Linked DNA regions of Homo sapiens: region 1 is linked to region 2. The links come from fine-mapping of genetic effects on gene expression. A gene starts in region 2. The other region holds a variant in brackets. All regions are shown on one strand. Distances are between the middles of the regions. Region 1 has its middle 85 kb from the start of ZNF827. Region 2 holds the start of LSM6 (LSM6 homolog, U6 small nuclear RNA and mRNA degradation associated).

What was found. PIP is the estimated chance that this variant, and not a neighbour inherited with it, causes the effect. A credible set is the group of variants that fine-mapping cannot tell apart.
Region 1: its variant is the best candidate, but not a certain one, in a credible set for the expression of LSM6 in whole blood (INTERVAL, PIP 0.67).

Annotation. Positions count from the first base shown.
Region 1 is chr4:146,017,862-146,029,356 of GRCh38, reverse strand. No RefSeq gene overlaps it. Among named protein-coding and RNA genes, the nearest start is that of ZNF827, 85 kb to the right of the region's middle. The variant T/C (reference allele first, on the strand shown) is at 6,692.
Region 2 is chr4:146,170,785-146,181,039 of GRCh38, reverse strand. It overlaps LSM6 (LSM6 homolog, U6 small nuclear RNA and mRNA degradation associated), which reads right to left and starts at 5,322. Exons shown (of 4, transcript NM_007080.3): 1 at 5,229-5,322. RefSeq lists a silencer at 5,113-5,172.

The DNA.
Region 1 (11,495 bases), 150 kb after region 2:
AATCTAAGAACAGCTCAGGGAAAAAAAATTGCATCTTGGTCAAAGATACCCATCTCCTGGCCAAGAGCAGTGCTTGCCCTTTTGTAGACATTGTTATTCTTCTTCCCATATTTCCACCTCAGGCTCCAGATGAGAGAACTTCCCCCCATCCAACTTGCAGACCATTTTAGGGAACATGTGAACTGACGCATGCTGTCTCTCTGTCCCTCCTTTCATTCTTCTCTCACCAGGGTAAGAGTAGCTAATCTGACTCAAGACAGCATACCAACCACTTGGCTTTACATATCAGAAGGTGGGGTGATGGAGTCGGGGCATTGCTTGTGCACACTCTTTCACCTTCTTTGATTGGCCTGCCCAGTCTCGGGGCCCTCGTACCTCAGCTCCTCAGCAGGCTTCCTTTTGCTTTCCTTCTGCTCCAGTTTCTCATAGTGCATGCAGGCAAGCAAGTCACGTTGGCTCTGCCCTATCTTCAGTCTGGATGAGATATCAAAGGCCAGCATTTTAGCTCAAGCCCAAGTGGAAGTCTCTAGCTCTGAGCACTGGAGCTTTGGGGGCAGAGCCTATCACTCTTATGTCAAAAAGTTCCCTGGGTCTGTTCTTCTCACTGAGAAACTACTGAGGTAAAAGGTAAAGGTTGGTAACCTCACTTCAAGCCATTCTTACCTGATAAAATTAAACCTGTATAGTCACCTACCATCCCCTTTTTAAAATCAACATTCACCAAGCAAACTTTTAATTGCGTTATGAGTTCCCATGGGCTGGTCAGGCTGTGTCACATTTATTGTCATCATAGGTTAATCAGGAGACATTTTGGTTGTCCACACCTCCACTGGATAACATGACCCATATCTGAGATACCAACTCTCAGCTTGTTGACAAACGTGGGTGTCTGAACCTGCAGAGCTAAAGACACGGTTAAAGTCACCAAGTTAATGGAATCCTATGAGTCTTGTGCATGAACAACCAGCTAGTCTTTCCCTTTAATTCCTCAAAACCAATAGCTGCTCTTCTTTGATATGTAAAACTTCCACAAGAACAATCTTGTAAGGTCTTTGAGAGGATTAAAAATAATGCAGGAGAGCACCTAATAGGGTGCCTGACACCCAGTAGACAATAACCATGAAAATTCCTGCTGTTGGTGTTATTTATTGGTACTTTGGAGATAAATATATATGTGTGTGTGTGTGTGTTTGTGTGTGAAATTACTCTTAAAAGGAGTAATAAATAATTACTGTCTATAAGAAGTAGAAGAAATTCTTTCCCAATGTATCTAAAGACAGTGAGGTAGCAGTTAGGCCACAATATTTCTAAAGGCGTAACATTCCCTACCCTTTTATAACTCTTGCAATTACTTGGTCTGAATGGCTCTGTCCAGCCCAACTCCCTAGCTGACCATTCATCTTCCAAATTATACCCAGGTGTCATCTGCTTTAAAGTGCCATGCATTCATGATTTGCCTCAATATCTAATTCTAGCCCTGTGAAGTATGGTTTTAAATCCTGCATGTGAAGGTGTTCATGGTCTGTATGGGTGCACAAGATCAGGGAACCCTCCCAGCTACCTTTTCATTAACTCCTCAGAGGCATTCATTAATGCTCCCAGCAGCAGGGCCTTTAAGTCCTTATGATAAATAACCACAGTAAGAAGTGTACACGCAGTGCACACACATGTGCATATGCATGCACATACACACACATATACACCTATAGAACTGAAACAAAAACCTTACAAAACAATACTTACCCTTAAAATGTAGATTAATTCAAAAGTCTATTTTTTAAATACTAAGACCCACTAAATTGATTTCAAAACCTATTAAAGGCTGAAGCCTGGCTATTTGAAAGGACACTGTAATGAGGACTCTAAACAGAGATCACAAGACCTTGTGTTGTGGACTGAGTCTAGTTTGTGACCATATTTTCATCTTGCAAGTCCTGAGAGTGCTGTATATCTATTGTGATATTTTGCTGTTATTATTGTTGTTTTTGATGTTGTGGCTGACAGATGATTATGAGACGTGGGTTAACTATTGTTTCACATTAGAAACTTATAAAAGTTGGTTTTTAGGAAAAGTATTTTTATTACCCACAACAAAGACTTCTGAGAAACTGGGTATTTTGAGCCTGTCCATAATATGGAGGGAGGAGGAGGAGGAGTGATGATGATGATGATGCTGATGATGGTGATGATTATGCTTTTAGTGTATGAAAGAATCATTGTAAAAGTACAGATACTGCCCACACACCTGGCACCAGATTCAGACCCATGGGAGAGGAGGGATGACACTCTTGCCCACCCAACACTCATTCTCCACAGGTCCACTGACTTGTCACATGGCAGAACGGAGAGCTACCTCAGGCTTCGGGAGGCAGACCCAGGTTATAAACCTGATGACACCATTTCCTATCCCTGCAACCTCAAGCACAGTATCTAATCTCTCTGAGCTTTGGTTCCCTCATCTGTGAAATGGACATAATACCAAATCCATGGACTGTTTGAGAGGATCGAGTGAGATTGCACCATCTGGACATTCATAGATTCATTGTGAGGATCACCTGCCACAGACAATGCAGTGCATTCTCTCCTAAATTCCTTTCAATATTTTGAAGTTTTAACATATGGGTCAGAAACTCAACGGCACTATGAAAGAGAATGAATCTCTATCATATTCCCCTTTTGATCTCAGGAGCTTGGCATTGGATTTATCATAGTCCTTGATTCATGGCACATCCCCATCATTGGTTCATTTATAACCTGCTTTTGCCTATTTGTTTAATTGTTTTTAATAATATCATAAGCACCTAGGTACCCACCACTTCTAACCAAAGGTAAGACCTTGATGATAGCCATTATCATGATGAGTCATGTGATTCCCACACTCTTTTCTTTCTACCCACCTACCTTATCCCCTTGCCTCTCTACTCCCAAAGTAGCCTTCATGTCTTCTCTTTAATTCTTGCAGACTCTATAAAACCTGCTGCCTTGGATGGAGTCCAGTTCAGACCCACACTGAGCTAAACTTTGGCTACATCCTAGGTCACTCCATTAACTATTTAGCCTGGTTCTTTTTTCCTTGGCAGACACATGGGTGGAGGTAGCAAGTATGTTGTGGGGAACAGGGTACTCTAAATGCCCTTACAACCTGAGTTTTTTTAAATCATGCCTTTTCTTCTTGTAGGGCAGCAGGATGGTCTTACTTTTCTTATTTCTCTGGCTGTGTGTTCATTCTATGCCAACCTCAGGAAAACAACATATGGGAGGTGGTGAGGGGAAGAATTCAGCACATGGTATCTTGGTTTAGTTCTCAGAAGCTCAGTAGAAGCTATTCCAAGGAACACTGTCCTTGGCTGAAGTAGGCTCTGTATGTCTACACTGTACTACCAGCTTCTAAAGCCATCATTTCAGCTGAGTGAACTAAGATAGTCAAAAGCTGGCATGGAAACACTTTGTGATGTGATCCTTTTGCTTAAAGGGACAGGAAACCCCTCAGCAGAGATTGCAGAACATTTTATCACCACAAGAGTAAAAACAGAACACCTCTGCTTCTTCACTCTTCTCTTCTCTCGTCCCACTTCTGTTGCTCCTGGGGTTGAAGAATGATTACATAATATCTCTTCTTGGACAGCTAGCTCTTAATTATCCACATTGTGGCATTTTTTGTAATCCTAAATTAAGTTTCTCTGTTACCCTGTACATTACCACAGCACCATCTCCTTTTCTGACCTAGATAGCATATTCTCAAAAACCAGGTGAATACAAACTCTTTATAAAATTAGCTAAGTCAAGTGTGCAAACATACACATTTCAAAGTTGTTCATAAATTTAGGATTATCAGAGCCACCACTCTCCTCTCTCAAGATACTAATAAAATTTTTATTTGAAGACTATTAAACTGTTCCTTAGCTTTTTCTTTTCTAAGATAAATCATCATGGTTTTTTTTATCTGTAGCAAGAATAAGAACCGCTCCACCTCCATTCCACCTCTAGCCCACAGATTACAGGTTCCAATAAACCCTGCTGAAGAACCTGCATTAGTAGACGAAAAATGAATTTCAAAACTTCTGCCAAGAGCTGGGCATAGTGGCTCATGCATATAATCCCAGCATTTTGGGAGGCCGAGGCGGGAGGATTGCTTGAGGCCAGAAGTTTGAGACCAGTCTTAGCAATGTAGTGATACCCCATATAGACAAAAAATGTTAAAAATTAACTGGATGCAGTGGCATGTGCCTATAGTCCTAGCTACTTGGGAGGCTGAGGTTGGATGATCACTTAAGCCCAGGAGGTCAAGGTTACATTGAGCTATAATTGTGCCACTACACTCCAGCCTGGGCAACAGAGCAAGACTGTCTCAAAACAAACAAACAAATAAACGAAAACCTTGTGCCAAGTGTCATCAGAGTTAGATGACACTTTTGTTTAACAAGATACCATTGAGATTCAAAAGTAAGTCCAGACCTGATTTGGAAAGACCTTGAGAATTAAATTTGTCAATATATTTACATAATGAAGTGAGGAAATACAGATAGTGTGTTCTAAAATGAAGGAGAAGAAAAGGAGGTTTCTGGGGGGAGAGAGAAAGAATGGGAAAGAGAGAGAAATTGAGAGAGAAAATGGCAGCAGGCCAGGCCCTGCAGAGAAAGACAACCAATATGAGATACTCCATGGTACAAATCACTGAAGAATTTCAGATGGTGATGTCTAATATGGAACTTCATTTTAAGTTGTACTCTGTTCTCAGCTATGCTAAAATCTCCATGCATCACTCTGAAACTCTTACTGAGCGTGACAGGCTTACACTTAAGTGACTATACCCAATACCCTATGGTAGTGGTGCTCTGGGGAATGAGGGGGAAAGGAGAGTGGGCACATTAGGGATAGAGCAGGATAGGAAGAGTGCTGCAGCCAGAGGATAGTATGGCTATGGGGACAGGCGGCAGGGGAAAGACAACAATCAGTGTCTGTCACAGAGGGGAGACTATGTCTTCCCTTCACTCAACAATCATTTTTTGAGTATTGAGTATGGACCTGGAATGATGCTAAATATTCAGGAGAAACAAGACATTGGCCCTGCACTTCCAAGCTCAATACCTAGCAGATAAATGAGAAAGCAATTAATATAGCTCTGGGGGATACGTACAATAAAATAATTTGCAAATACACATGATACATTAATAACCTGGAGGCGTGGAGGGAAGATCCCAGATGAGGTGATCATTTGGTCATGTTTCATTCAATTAAGAATGCTTTGAGGAGAAGGTGCAGAGCAAGATGACAAAATAGAAGCCTCCACCAATATCTCCCCTCCCCCAAGGACAACAATTTAACAACTATCTACACACAAAAAACACCTTCATAAGAACCAACAATCAGGTGAGCATTCACAGTACCTGGTTTTAACTTCATATCACTGAATGAGGTAGTGAGGCGAATAGGAGACAGTCTTGAATTGCTGACACCTCTCCTCCCCCAGCCCCAGCAGTGGCCATGTGGTGTGGAGAGGAAATCTGTGTGCTTGGGAGAAGGAGAGCACAGCAATTGTGAGACATTGCATTGAACACAGTAGTGCTCTGTCACAACAGAAAGCAAAACTGAGCTGAACTCCTCTGACACCTGCCCACAGAGGAAGTATTTAAACCAGTCCTAAGCAGAGGAGCATCGCCCATCCCAGTGGTCAGAACTTGAGTTCCAGCAAGGCTTTCCACCGTGAGCTAAAGTGCTCTGGAGTCCTAAATAAACTCAAAAGGCAGTCTGGGCCACAAGGACTGCAACTCATAGGCAAGTCCTAGGGCTGAACTGGGCTCTGAGCCAGTGAACTGAGGGGCATGTGACCTAGGGAGACACCTTTCAGGTGTCTGCACAGCTCACAGCTCCAAAAGAGACCCCTCCCTTCTGTTTGAGGGGAGGAGAACAAAGAATGGAGAGGACTTTGTCTTGCATCTTGATACCAGCTCAGCCACATTAGGATAGAGCACAAGTCAGAGTTATGAGGCCTCCATCCAGGCCTTAGTTTCAGGACATTTCTAGACACACCCTGGGCCAGAAGAGAACCTGCTGCCTTGAAGGGAAGGACCGAGTCCTGGAAGGATTCATCACCTGCTGACTAAAGAACCCTTGGGCCCTGAACAATTAGCAGTAATACCCAGGTAGTATGCCGTAGGCCTTGGGTGAGACTCTGAGACTTGCTGGCTTCAGGTAAGACTCAGTACATTTCCAGCTGTGGTGGCTATGGGCAGAAACTCCTCCTGCTTGAGAAAAGTGAAGGAAAGGTAAAGAGGACTTTGTCTTGCACCTGAAGTACCAGCTTGGCCACAGTAGAGTAGATCACCAAGTGGGTTCTTGGGGTCCCTGATTCTAGGCCTTGGCTTTTGAATAACATATCTGGACCTTCCCTGGACCAGAGGGAGCCCACAGCCCTGAAGAGTCACAGGCCAGGCAGCATTCACCACAAAGTGACTGAAGAACCCTTAGGCCTTAAGGGAGATATTGGCAGTAGCCTGGGGGTACTCCCTTTGGGCCTGTGGTGGTAGCCATGAGGTGAGGCTCCTCTGCCTGTGGAAAGTGGGGGAAGAGTGGGAAGGACTGCATCTTGTGAGTTGAGTGGCAGCTCAGCTATTGTGCAATATAGCACCAGATAGACTTCTAAGGTTTTTGATGTCAGGCCCTGGTTCCTGGATGGCACCTCTGGACCTGC[T/C]TGGGGCCTAAGGAAACTCAGCATCCTGAAGGGAAAGACACCAGCCTATCTCCTTTGCCACCTGCTGACTGTACATCATCAGGGCCTTGAGTGGACATAGGTGGCAGCTAGGTAGTAGTTACAGTGAGCCTTGGGCAAAATCAAGTGCTGTGCTGGTTTCAGGTCTGACCTAGTACAGTCCCAGTGGTGGTTGTCATGGGGGTGTTTGTGTCACCCCAGCCCCAGCCCCAGGTGTCTCAGAACAGAGAGAAAGAGTCTCTATTTGTTTGAGTGAAAGGAAGAAAACAAGGGTCTCTGCCTGGTAATCCAGAGTGTTCTTCCCGATCTTATCTAAGACCATCAAGGCAGTACCTTTACAAGTCTGAAAGAAACACAATGTCACTGGGTGTGGGGTGCCCTGTAATGCAGATATGGGTTAGATCAGAACACCTACATTCTTTCAAATAGCTGGAAAACCTTCCCAAGAAAGACAGGAACAAATAAGCTCAGAGTGCAAAGACTACAATTAATACCTAACTTTTCTATGCACAGACATAGATGAACATCCACAAGCATCAAGACCATCCATGGTGAGGTCATGATCTCACCAAATAAACTAAATAAAACACCACACCAAGGACCAATCCTGGAGAAATAGAGATATGTGACCTTTCAGACAGAGAATCCAAATTCGCTGTGTTGAGGAAACTCAAAAGAAATTAAAGATAATACAGAGAAGGAATTCAGAATTCTATCAGATAAATTTAACAAAGAGATTAAGGTAATTAGAAAGAATAAAGCAGAAATTCTGGAGTGGAAAAATGCAATTGACACACTGAAGAATGCCTCAGAGTCTTTTAATAACAGAAACAATCAAGCAGAAGAAAGAATTACTGAGCTTAAAGACGGGCTATTTGAAAATACACAGTCAGAAGAGACAAAAGAAAAAAGAACAAAAAATAATAAGGCAAACCCACAGCATTTAGAAAATAGCATCAAAAAGGAAAATCTAAGAGTTATTTGCCTTAAAGAAGAGGTAGAGAAAGAGACAGGGGTATACATTTTATTCAAAGGGATAAGAACAGAGAAAGTCCCAAACCTAGAGAAAGACATCAATGTCCAAGAACAAGAAGGTTATAGGACACTCACTAGATTTAACCCAAAGAAGATGACCACAAAGCATTTAATAATGAAACTTCCAATTGTCAAGGTTAAAGAAAGGATCCTAAAAGCAGCAAAAGGAAAGAAACAAATAACATACAATAAAGCTCCAATATATCTGGCAGCAGACTTTTCAATGAAAACCTTACAGGCCAGGAGAGAGTGGCATGACATATTTATAGTTCTGAAGGAAAAACATTTTACCCTAGAATGGTATATCTGGCCAAAAAAAAACAAAAAAACAAAAAACAAAAAAACAATAAAACAACAACAAAAAAAAACCCTTCAAACATGAGGGAAATAAAGATGTCCCTAGACAAACAAAGGCTGAGGGATTTCATCATTATAGGACCTGTCCTATAAGAAATGCTAAAGGAAATACTTCACTGAGAAAGAAAAGGACATAATGAATAATGAGTGCAAAACTCACTGGTAATAGTAAGTACACTGAAAACACACAGACAATTATAACACTGCGTGTTTATAACTGTGGTGTGTAAATTACTCTTATCTAAGTAGAAAGACAAAACAATGAATCAATCAAATATAATAGCCACAACTTTTCAAGATGTAGACAATACAATAAGATATAAATAGAAACAATAAAAAGTTAAAAAGCAGGGAGACAAAGTTAAAGCATAGAGTTTTTATTAGTTTTCTTTTTCCTTGTTTGTTTATGTAAACAGTGTTAAGTTTTTGTCAGCTTAAAATAATGGGTTATAAGACAGTATTTACAAGCCTTGTAGTAAGCTCAAATAAAATAATACAATAAATACACAAAAAATGAAAAGCAAAAAATTAAATTATACCATCATAGAAAATCACCTTCCCTAAAAGAAAGACAGAATGGAAGGAAAGAAGGAGAAGACCACAAAACAACCAGAAAATAAACAACAAAATGGCTAGAGTAAGCCCTTACTTATTGATAATAACATTGACTATAAACGAATTAAACTCTCTAATCAAAAGACATAGAGTGGTTGAAAAGATTTTAAAAACAAGGTCCAATGATCTGTTATCTACAAAAAACAGACTTCACCTGTAAGACACATGTAGACTGAAAATAAAGGTATAGAAAAAGGTATTCCATTCCGAAGAAAACCACAAAAATGCAGGACCAGCTATACTTACATCAGAAAAAATAGATTTCAAGACAAAAACTATAAGAAGAGACAAAGAAGGTTATTATATAATAATAAAGAGGTCAATTCAGCAAGGGGATATAAGGATTGTAAATATATATGCACCCAATACTGGAGCATCCAGATATATAAAGCAAATATTATTAGAACTAAAGAGAGAGAGACTCCCATACAATAATAGCTGGAGACTTCAATACCCCACTTTCAGTATTGGACAGATCTTCCAGACAGAAAATCAACAAAGAAACTTCAAACTTTATCTGCACTATAGACCAAATGGGCCTAATAGATATTTACAGAACATTTTATGCAACAGCTGCAGAATACACATTCTTCTCCTCAACACATGGATCATTGTCAAGGATATATCATATGTTAGGTCACAAAACAAGTCTTAAAACATTCAAAAACTTTGAAATCATATCAAGCATCTTCTCTGACTGCAATGGAATAAAACTAGAAATCAATAACATGAGGAATTCTGGAAACTATACAAGCTATGGAAATTAAATATGTTTCTGAATGACCAATGGGTCAATAAGACAAATTTTTAAAGGAAATTGAAAAATTTCTTGAAACAGATGATAATGGAAACACAACATACCAAAACTTATGGGATACAGCTAAAGCAGTACTAAGGGAGGAGTTTATAGCTATAAGTGCCTACATCAGAAAAGAAGAAAAAAGTCAAATAAATAACCTAATGATGCGTCTTAAAAAACTAGGAAAGCAAATGCAAACCAAACCTAAAGTGAGTAGAAGAAAAGAATTGAAACACAGAAAACAATACAAAAGATCAACAAAACAAAAAGTTGGTTTTTTGAAAAGGTAAACTAAAGTGGCAAATGTTTAGTCAGACTAAGAAGAGAGAAGACTATATGAAAACTATGAAATGTGGATGAAAGAAATTAAAGAGGACACAAATAATGGAACAATATTCCATGTTTATAAATTGGAAGAGACAATATTGTTAAAATGTCCATACTATCCAAAGCAATCTACAGATTTAATGCAACCCTATGAAAATACCAATGACATTTTTCGCAGAAATAGAAAATATAATCCTAAAATGTATGTGGAACCACAAAAGACCCAGAATAGCCAAAGCCATATGAAGCAAAAAGAACAAAATGGAAGGAATCACATTAACTGACTTTAAATCATAGTACAGAGGTATAGTAACCGAAACAGCAGGGTACTGGCATAAAAACAGACACGTAGATCAGTGGAACAGAATTAAGAACCCAGAGATAAATCTATATAACTACAGTGAACTCACTAGACAAAGATGCCAAGAACATACTTTGAGGAAAGGACAGTCTCTTCAATAAATGGTGCTGTAAAAACTGAATATTCATATGCAAAAGAATGAAACTAGACTTAATCTCTTGCCATATCAAATAAAAATGAATTAAAGACTTAAATCTAAAACCTCCAATTATGAAACTATTAAGAAAACATTGGGGAAACTCTCCAGGACAGTGGAGTGGGCCAAGATTTCTTAAGGAATACCCCCACAAGCACAGACAACCAAAGCAAAAATGGACAAATGGAATCACATCAAGTTAAAAAACTTCTGCACAGCAAAGGAAACAATCAACAAAGTAAAGAGACAACCCACAGAATGGGAGAAAATATTTGCAAACTACCCATTTGACAAGGGATTAATAACCAGAATAGATAAGGAGCTCAAACAACTCTATGGGAAAAATTCCAATAATCTGATTTTAAAACAGGCAAAAAATCTAAATAGACATTTCTCAAAAGAATATATACAAGTGGCAAATAGTTTTCAATGATGTCTCAACATCAATGATCATCAGAGAAATGCAAATCAAAATTACAGTGAGATACCATCTCACCCCAGTTAGAATGGCTTTCATCCAAAAGTAGGCAATAACAAATGTTGGTGAAGATGTGAAGAAAACGGAACCCTCATAAACTGTCAGTGGTAATGTAAATTAGCACAACCACTGTGGAGAACAGCTTGGAGGTTCCTCAAAAACTGAAAATAGAGATACCATACTATCTGGTAATTCCAGTCCTGGGTATATACCCAAAAGAAAGGAAATCAATATATTGAAGAGATATTTGCACTCCCATGTTTATTGCAGCACTGTTCACAATAGCCAAGATTTGGGAGCAACCGAAATGCCCATCAGCAGATGAATAGATAAAGGAAATGTCGTACATATACACAATGGAATACTATTCAGCCATAAAGAAGAATGAGATCCTGTCATTTGCAATGACATGGATGGAAGTAGAGGTCATTATGTTAAGTGAAATAAGCCAGGCACAGAAAGACAAACTTCACATGTTCTCAATTATTTGTGAGAGCTGAAAATTCAAGTAATTGAGCTCCTGCAGTTCCAGAATAGAAGGATGGTTGCCAGATGCCGGGAAGGACAGTGGGGCAGGAATTGGGGGAAGGGGAGAAAGCGAGGATGGTTAATGGGTACAAAAAAATAGAAAGAATAAATACAACTTAGTATTTTCTAGCACAATGAGGTGACTATAGT
Region 2 (10,255 bases):
AACCACTTTTCATTCAGGACTCAGATCACACAGTAATTTTATTTACACTGTTCTGAGTACAAAGTGAAAAAATACAAAATAAATACTGTAACAGATTCAGTACCTTTAATGAGTTTAGTGAAAATACACAAATCTTCCCATTCATCTATAAACCGCCTTATTTACATTTTGAATACATGCTGTTTTGAGGCTGAACACATCTAGAGAGAATATTAACTCTGAAGGCCTGATACTCAACTGATGAGTCAGGTGCATTTCCTATCACAGATGCTAAATCCCATTATGCCACAGTTTCATTATGTATAAAACTGAGATAAAAGTAGCTATTTTGTGTTAAAAATCACTAAAATGCTTTGTAATGTGATTCTAGTTCATGGAGATATTAACTACTTTAATTATTACTAATTTCATCTGCTCATAGAGTATTTACAGTTTCAGATTAAAAACATTTGAAAAGCAAAAGCTGGAAAGAGTTAATAACTGTCAGAAAAAAGAATGCAAATCTTGACTATCAGTTGCTTGACAGTATAGGTTATTTTAAAAGTATTATTAATATTAACTTTCCACACCTTTTTATAAACACAGATATGTTCTTCTAAGCTCACCAAAGATAACGCCTTGTCCATTATGCTTTATCTGTATTCCAATTAACATCAATCTCTTCCTGAAGGCAATCAACACTTCCAACTTTCACGGAGCACCTGTCAAGTTCAGGCGCACAGGGTTGGGGAATGTAACACAAAGACAAGGCCTTAAGCCCTCAGAGTTTACATTCCAGAGAGGGCAAGAAACATGTAAATGCAGAATTTTACAAAGGTGATGTGTATTCTGATAGAATTATGCACAAAAGGGCAGAGAACACTCTCTTACCCCAGGCTTGGCAGATCAAAGAATTTCTGGAAGTTAACACCTGAGCTGAATTTGAAGGAAAAGGCGTCACCCCCTAGCTGAAAGAAGAGAAGTCAGAAAAGGCACGGAACAAGTGTCTGGGTAGAACGTAAAATCTACATAGGCAAGGAGGAGACGCCTCTGCGGCAGGGAGCTGTGCCACATTCACAGGGAGCACAGAGTTGAGGCTCTGGGTCAGTTTCCCAAACTTGAATCATTAGGATCAGCTGGAGATTCTACTCAGTAGTTCTGGGGTAGGAGCCAGCAATCTATTTGAACAAGCCTAGGAAATAACTGGCAAGGGGAAATACTGTTGTCAATGATAGGAAACAGGGGTTTTAAGCAGGAACTTGCTTGGGTTCCACTCTCTACTTTCCATAGCAGAGTGCAGATGCCCATCTCACCTACTTTTGGCATCACATAGTTTGGCATTTGATTTTATTTGCTATAACCTGTCACTATGCCCTCTTTTGTATTCTTTATGTGGGTCTTTTCTCCCTCAAAATACTGTAAGCCACATGACAAGAGGGGCTCACAAGCTTCTCATCTGTTCTCTAGAATATCTACATTCTACTAAACCTCTTGGAAAAAAAATACTTCTAAGGTTATTTGGAAAAGAGTATATGGGTTGCCTCAAACACATTTTATCCATCACTTTAGGAAAGCCGTATCTTTTACATTAGTCTTCATTAGGCTTCCTTGCTACTCCCTGTTACTTAATGACTTGCCCATAAATCCATTTTGTATGAGTAAATTGGTCTTGACACCACAATTTTTCCCATCACTTGGCTCAAGTAATTTTAAGTTTTCATCTTTTAAATTGGATAAAGCAGAAGAAACAGTTCTGACAATTTCTGAAGCAAGAGATGAGTCTCTTGAACCATAAACACATAAGAGGAAAAAGACCTTTCTTCAGGGTCACCCTGGTAAAACTTCTCCTTTCAAAATTAAAGTCATAATCACTCTCTATACCTCCTCTCCCTCCCCTGACTCCTACTCAGGCTTGTTTTAAATGACCTATTTTCATAAATGACTATTAAGTCAAAGGCAGTATATTTTCTGTCAGAAGCTACTGAGAGGTCTAGTATGAAAACATCTGCAAAGTGCCCTGCAGGGAATTTTTTTCTTTTTGGTAAAAGAATGAAGAAAAAAAAGAACTTTTATTAACCCAACTATGTGCTACCAGAGTTAGATTCATAAGCAATTTACAGAGAAACCCTGTGAGGTGGAAAGCAAAGCCAAGGCTGACCCCAAAGCCCAAGCCCTTTCACAGGTACAGCTGCCCTTCTGAATATGTTAAGATTCTCTGGTTAAATCTTGGGGAATCGCAATAGAGGCGGTGAGAAATCCAGTTGGAGAGTAGCAGCACTGGGGAAAAAAAATACCTAACGTGACAAAGTGCTGTAAATTAGCCTCAGAGAAATACAATGGACAGATGCAAAGAAATCTATCTCATGTGATTTGAGTTATGCCACTGAGCAGAAGACATGAAAATCCTTATTTCTTGGCAATGTTTACCTGTAAGTTTTTACCTACTCCTGGCGTATTTACAGTTTAGGGTGAAAAGAATTTGAAAAGCAAAAATTGCAAGGAAACATTACAATCCAAGTAATTGCAGCACTAGACTAATAGATCAGTGTCTGAGGAGGCGATCAGATAGGCAGAAGAACAGCTCTCTAAATCCTCCCTTCGGACACAGTGGAGTTCCTCGCTGTCTTTTGAAGGCTTCATACCAATCCCTCCTTCCTCGGCAGCAGGGGCTACTTCTCTCCCTCTCTCCCAAAGGCGAAGTGAGTCCACTCAGAGCACCTCTTTCCACTCTCAGTCATGGCCCTTATCAGGCTGTTTCGTAATTTTTCCATTTGCTGACTGGTCTCCCGTGCGAATTTAAAGCTTCTTGGGGACAGGGAAAATATCTTACTCACTTGGTGTCCCTGGTACCTAAGCACACTACCCAAGTCTGTGGAAGAGACATTCAAGGCCAGTGCCAAGCAAAATCCCTGTCCAGCCCCCATCAGCCCAAACTATGGATACAGTGACCAGTAGGATCATGCATGTACTTCAACAAATACTAACCAAGTAATCTCTATTATGAGCACCAAAAACTGAGAAAACAACTGTTTGTGTCATTCAAGAACCAGCTGTTTCCAAATCTAGAGATGCTTGTTAAAATGCAGATTTTCCCGAAGTCTACTCAGGTAAAGGCACTGTATTTTACATTTTATAAAGTTCTCCAGATAATTTCTATAAGCAAATGGTTCTCATCTAGGGGCAGTACCCCCAACCCTGCCCCACCCTGCTCAGGGACACTTGGAAATATCTGGGGACACTGAACTGTCATGACTGAGGAAGGTGGTGCTACTGCTATCCTAGTGGGTAGAGACCAGGGATGTTGCTAAACATTTTACAACTAACAGGACGGCCCTCCACAACAAAGGACTGCCCAGCACAAAATGTCAATGGAAGTTGACAATCTCTGCTATAAGCCCTAAATAAAAAAATAAATAAAAATAAATAAAAATAAAAAAAATTGTTCTTTGGTTTTAAAGTGAGGAGTTTTAAAGAAATCTCCAAGGTACCGCAAATGATAACCAAAAGCTACATTCTAACCAAATGATGGAGTGTAGGTTATAATTAATCAGGGGTGTTTTATTCTAACATATAGGGAACCTGAAAACAACTGTCAAAATCTTGAAGGGGTTGCCATTCTAAATAATGGATTTCTAGTCTTGGCCATGAAAATGATCACTTTCCAATTTTTCAGTGTTACAGGTCTCTCCGATGATTAAAATCTGTTAGTACACTTTTAAAAGGAGAGAATAACCCAGGTGATGTAAACAAATTTTTAAATTCTAGTATCTACTATGCCACAGTTCAGTGAGAGACTGCCTGATACAGCACAGAGTACTCACTTGGGAGGCAGGAAACCTGAGTTCTAATCCCAGCTCTGCTACTTAATTAGCTGTGTGACTTGGATAACTCATAATTTCACTTCTCATGGCCCCAGGTTCCTCATCTGCAATATAAGGGAGTTATGCCAGATGACCACTTAAGTCTCTTCCTGCCCTAACATTCAGGTAGTCTAACGCATTAACGCCAGTGACACACACACACACACACACACCACAAACACAAGCCTCTCAAGATTTCTGCACAATATTTAAGCAAGTAAAATTACCAAACATCTCTAAAACTTTTTTGGAAAACACTGCAGCAATGTGTATGAAGGCCTAAAACAGACCTTTCAGATGACAGCATCTAATCTGATAATTTCACTTCTGAGAATCTAGTCCAAGGAAATAATCTAAAAAATAGGGGGAAAAGAGTTTATCAAAGCACTATCTGGGATGCTAAGATGATGTAAAAATTCAAAAACAATCTAATGTCCCACAATCGGGAAATGACTGAATAATTTACGGGACCTAAACTGGGACCCACAATGATAGGACAATCAAAAGAAGATACAAAATTAGAATAATATTTAGGAAGAGTTTTTAAATGGAAGTGGAAAACTACACTGTTAAGTGATTAAACATGTACACTCTTAGTTCAAGTAGAAGCTAGCACATACAAGAGAAAATGATCGTAGGTGAAAGGGTTCAGTGAATATTATTTTCTTCACTAAAGTCTTCTATGTTTGCAATTTTCTACAATAGTCACGTATTACTAAGAGCAGTGGGGCAGGGTAATCCGCATCATCTTAATCCTACACACCTTAAAAATGCCTGCTATGCAGGTGTGCGGACACGCATACGCACAGAAAACCTTGGGCGATAGGACTTAAGACCATACAATCGGGTTCCTCGACCTGACAACTTGGTAAGACAGGCGAGTCCAGCCTTTAATTCCTGTGGTCAGGCGCAGCCACCCCGATGTAGGAGAGGGTTCGCAATTCCCTGAAGCCCTCCTGGAAGACAGGCGAAGCCTAGGCCTGGGTTCGGGATCCGCTTTCCCGCCGAATCTTGGGATTAGCGTCGGGGCTCCCTGGGGAACTTCAACAACCTGAATTGATCTCGGACGCCAACTCGGTAGGAGCCGGGACGGTGCCGCTCCTCTCCGCGCAGTCTAGGCGCCTCGCTGAGGGCGGTCCCGGCGCCCACCATCAGACCTCTCCCAGCCATTCCATGCGCGGAGAGCTTGGACGCGGCATTTCGCGGGGACCCGCCACCCAGCGGTCCCTTCCCGGAGCCCCAGCCTGTTCACCGCAGGCCCTTTCCGGGGCTGCCTCGCCCGGCCTAGGGCCGCTGCAGCCGCCGCTCCACAGCGCGACTGAACACTGGGGCACCGAACCTGGGGCTGCGCCCGGCCCCGTCGTCGGCCCGCGCAGCGGTGCGGCTCACCTCGCCGGCGGGAACCAGAACCCTCACTCCAGGCGCCCCACGAGCCCGGCCGCCGCGGATGATCCCAGCCAAAACCGAAAGCGCCGAGGCAGGGGCACTTTTCTGCCTCAGCCAATCAGTGCTCTTCTCTGCTACGGCAGCCCGCTGGGGCCGAAAAAGCCTGTCAGCACCAAAGCGCGCAAATCCAAGATTCCTGGTTTGTCTAGTAGCAAAATTGGTGCAGTGGAGTTCCTCTAACAGAAATCTGAGTACAAAACAAATACAATACAAAACAAAAACAAAATTCCAGGAAACTAGAAGTGATCTTTTGGGCAGGATTTATTTACAGAAGTGTAAAAAATAACTTGAAGTCATAGGAAACTGGAATTTACTGTTTAAGTAACGGCATTGTGTACCCAGAAACGTCCTTGAATAGTTTAAAGCAAATAAATAAATAAATGAAACACCTCAAGTCTTTAAATCTACCTCTGGATATTGATTAAATGTGTGAAGACTTAAGCCATTTTAGCAAGAGACTGTTTCCATGGCAATGTTAATTGATACAAAAATAATCAAAATCACTCAAGTAACTCCAAATTATAATGACATTAATTGTGTTACATTACTAGTTCCTATTGGAAATGGTGTGCAGACTTATTTCAGTGCTACTATGGGAACTTGGTTTGGAATTTTGCATGAATTCTCAATACTCTTTCTATTAATGGAATTGAAAGGGAAAAAGAAGAGAACTGTTACACCAGGACTTGATTCGTTTTTCCCCCTCCACATATACTCTCATCAGTTGAAAACTTATACTTTAATTATATTTATGATTTGTAACACTATACACAGAGTGATAAGATCTTTCAACACAGATCCTTAACCCCATTAGGTGTTATAAAATCTAAGATGCAAAATTTTTTTCGAAGATAAAGAGTTCCTCCCTTGTAAACTTCTTTTGGTTAAAGGCAGAAGAAATGAACTTTTGATTGATATCAGGGACAGAAAACAACTGGATATGATTTGTTAAAGAATAGAGACTTCCTTATATCCTTCTATAAAAGTTCAGTTTGGATAAAGACCGAACAGTTACTGATTTATTGTGAGGGCTGTATTTGAAGTTCTTGCAATATAAAATACAATGTAAATAAAAATTTTAAGAAAAGTACCATTTAAATCAAATAATTACGTGCAAAGAACAAACATAATAGGATAAAAAGCCCTGTTCCTAAAAACTTTCTTTGCAAACGACATCAAATTGCACATTCCTTACTGATTGTTTAAATTATTAAAAAAAAAAAGAAAATTTTTGATTCAAACTTCTTTCCCTTTCCTACAGAGCCCTAATCGAGCCGTTAACACTAGTGTGGTGGGTAGGGAGCCATGAGGAGTTTTAAGGGCCTAGTTCATCTGCTGAGCAGCTGCAACCTTCTCTAAGGGGAGTAGCTGGGTAAGGGCCCAGTTTGACACACGGGGTGGGCATCCTGAATTAATTCATGAGCTAACAAGCTTATAAAAAGTGTGGCTGTTCCCAAAAGCCCCTCAGCAGCTTATAAATGACTTTTACTAACTCACAAGGCAATTTTCCGTATTTCCCAGGTTTTTGCTTTCAGCATCTTTTATGATGCAAAGAAAACACTGCAAGACTTTTGGTGAATACTAGTCTTCAAAACCCTGAATGTAAACATTAATTTATTAAGGAGCCTTAAAGTCATAAAAATATTTTGGCAAGCTTTAGTTTAACTTATGTAGTTTAGTTTCATTTAGTTGTTAGGACTGATGAACCTACACTGACACATCATTATCATCCAAAGGCCAAAGTTTACATTAGGGTTCACTCTTGGTGTTGCACATTCTATAGGTTTTGACAAATGCATAATGAAATGTACCCACAATTACAGTATCATACAGAATAGTTTCACTGCCCTAAAAATTCTCTGTGCTCCACCTATTTATCCCTTCCTCCCCACTGGCAACCGCTGATCTTTTTTCTGTCTCCAAAGTTTTGCCTTTTTCCACAATATCATATATTTGGAATCATACCGTACACAGTTAGTGGTGCATACACTGCACCACCCCACTGTGTAGCCTGTTCAGACTGGCTTCTTTCACTTAGAAATATGCATTTAAGACCCCTCTGCGCCTTTTCATGGCTTGACAACTCATTTCTTTTAAGTTCTGAATAATATTCCATTATTTGGATGTACCACAGTTTATTTATCCATTTACCTACAGAAGGACATCTTGGTTGCTTCCAAGTTTGGGAAGTTATGAATAAAGCTGCTATGAATATGTGTATGCAGGTTTTTGTATAGAAATAAGTTTTCAGCTTATTTGGGCAAATATCAAGGAGTATGACTGCTAGATCATATAGCAAGGGTATGTTTAGTTTTGTAAGAAACTGCCAAACTGTCTTACAATGTGGCTGTACCATTTTGCATTCCCACTAGGAGTGAATGAGAGTTTCCATTGTTCCACATCCTCATGGGCATTTGGTGCTTCCAGTCCTTTGGATTTTGACTAGTCTAATAGCTGCTTAGTGACTATCTCATAGTTGTTTAAAGTTGTAATTCCCTAGTGACATATGATATGGAGGATCTTTCTATATACTTATTTGCCATATGTATATCTTTGGTTGTTCAGGTCTTTGGCCCAATTTTGAATCAGTTTGTTCTTTCTTTTTGTTGAGTTTTAAGAGTCCTTTGTATATTTTGAATAATAGTTCTTTATCAGATATGTGTTTTACAAATATTTTCTCCCAGTTTATGGCTTGTCTTTTCATTCTCTTGAAGCTATTATGCTTAAAATAGACAAATGCAGATATATAAATGCTAAGAGAACTCTTGCCACTTCATTGTTTGTCCCTTCTACAGTTCTATAGTACATATGCCTTTAAATAACTATGTCCTTCAATGTTTCATATTCATAAAAGATGGTCTCATGTCTAGCTTATTAAACACCCAACAGCCCTGTGAACATGTAGATGAATGTATTGTGATGTTGTTGTGGTTGTTGTTGATGATGATGATGATGATGATAAATACAAACATGTAATTGGATTGACCAACACTCTCCAAAGCAGATTTTAATATGTAACATGGATGTTAAGCTTCCAAGAATACTGGCTGGTCTTGTTGGAGCAATGCATTAACTGGTATGAAGTGCTGGCATGGACCTGAACCTTTCCTGGACCTTCAGACTGTACAATAGGAGCTCATAAGCTGTGATGTGCTAGTTTTGGATACTTGGGGCCACCATTATCTGCCTTTAATCATGGGATATGAAAATTATTTGTTATAGAAAATGAAGAGAGGCCGGGGGCAGTGGCTCACACCTGTAATCCCAGCACTTTAGGAGGCCAAGGTTGGCGGATCACTTGAAGTCAGGAGTTCAAGACCAGCCTGGCCAAGATGTTGAATCCCGTCTCTACTTAAAATTAAAAAATTAGCTGGGTGTAGTGGCACATGCCTGTAATCCCAGCTACCTGGGAGGCTAGGCATGAGAATCTCTTGAACCCGACAGGCTAAGGTTGCAGTGAGATGAGATCATGCCACTGCACTCCAGTCTGGATGATAGAGCGAGACTGTTTCTTAAATGAAGAAAGAAAGAGAGAAAGAAAGAAAGAAGAAGGAAAAAAGAAAGAAAGAAAGAAAGAAAGAAAGAAAGAAGGAAGAAAGAAAGAAAGAAGAAAGAAAGAAAGAAAGAAAGAAAGAAAGAAAGAAAGAAAGAAAGAAAGAAAGAAAGAAAGAAAAAGAAAGAAGGAAAAGAAAGAGGGAGGGAGGGGAAAAAAGAAAATAAGGAAACAGACAGACACTCTCTGGTTGTTGAATACCTTCTAAGAAGTGATACAAGCTCATTGACTGGTGGGCAAATTTCTCAGAAAAAGTAGTATGTCGTTTTGCTTACCCAAGGAAGTGATATATTCTACATCATGGGCGCTTGGTTTCAGATGTAACATGTGAGATGTTTAAATAATGTTCGGACTTCATCAGCCATCATTTTGGCATGACTTGAATTTTAAAAGAGATAGGATCAGAGTCTGAGCTCCTGGAAGGAGAATCTCCCAAATGCTGTGATGCTTTATACTCCACCGTGAACTCTAGAAAACCTCTCTCAGCTGTAAAATTTAGTGAAATCGGTGTGAAGCTGCCCTTGTATTTTAATCAAGATGAACTTGAAAGGTGAACATTATAAGTGGGAGAAATTATTTATAATTTGGTAATAAAAGTTTATGTCTAACACTCCAAATTTCATACATCTGCTATGTGCTGGCCCTGAGATATAAAACAATTGAAGTTGCCTTTACATTTGGCCTTATATGAAAGGTCATAAATTAGAGTGATAGCGTTCATCCTCTTTCCTAGCTCACAAAATTTCCATATTAACATCTTCACCTCAAACATAAATGGTTACCCAGCTACAAAGAAAAGAGTTGTGTTGGCCTTTATGAATTATAGTTTATGTTGGAAATCTGTGCTACACAGGGCTGCTATTCAGCTTGTAGGAGAGTACATCTACTTCAATGAAGCTAATTCTACCACAGTGAAACCAATTAAAATCATATGGCCAATTTAAATAAATATAGTATATAAACACTTGGGAATACTTTCAAAATTAGCAAATGGTTGCCAAGGTATGTGATTCTTTTAACTCTTAAAAATGCATTCATAGATATTCAAGGGATTTTCTCTGCTAGAATACCCAGTAACAAGTTTATTTTCAATAAACTCACTTTCAATTTTTAAAATGTACTTTCTAATGTGGTTTTAACTGATAATGTGAAAATGCTGGTTTTTTTAACTACAAAAAAACACACAGCTCATTTTATTATAATATATAGTAATTAAATTTATTCCAAAATATTAATGAATTGGACCAGTGCTTCATGTTTAGGCTTTCAAAAAATGTTTATAGCAAAAAACAGATGTCCTTAATTATTCAGGGTGAGTTATAAAATCCATGTGCTTTTTGTGGACGTTTTTTTTGCTAGCCCAGTGGTGCAGTTAAAATGCAGCATAATGTAAACTAGCAGGGTCAAGTTCAAGAAC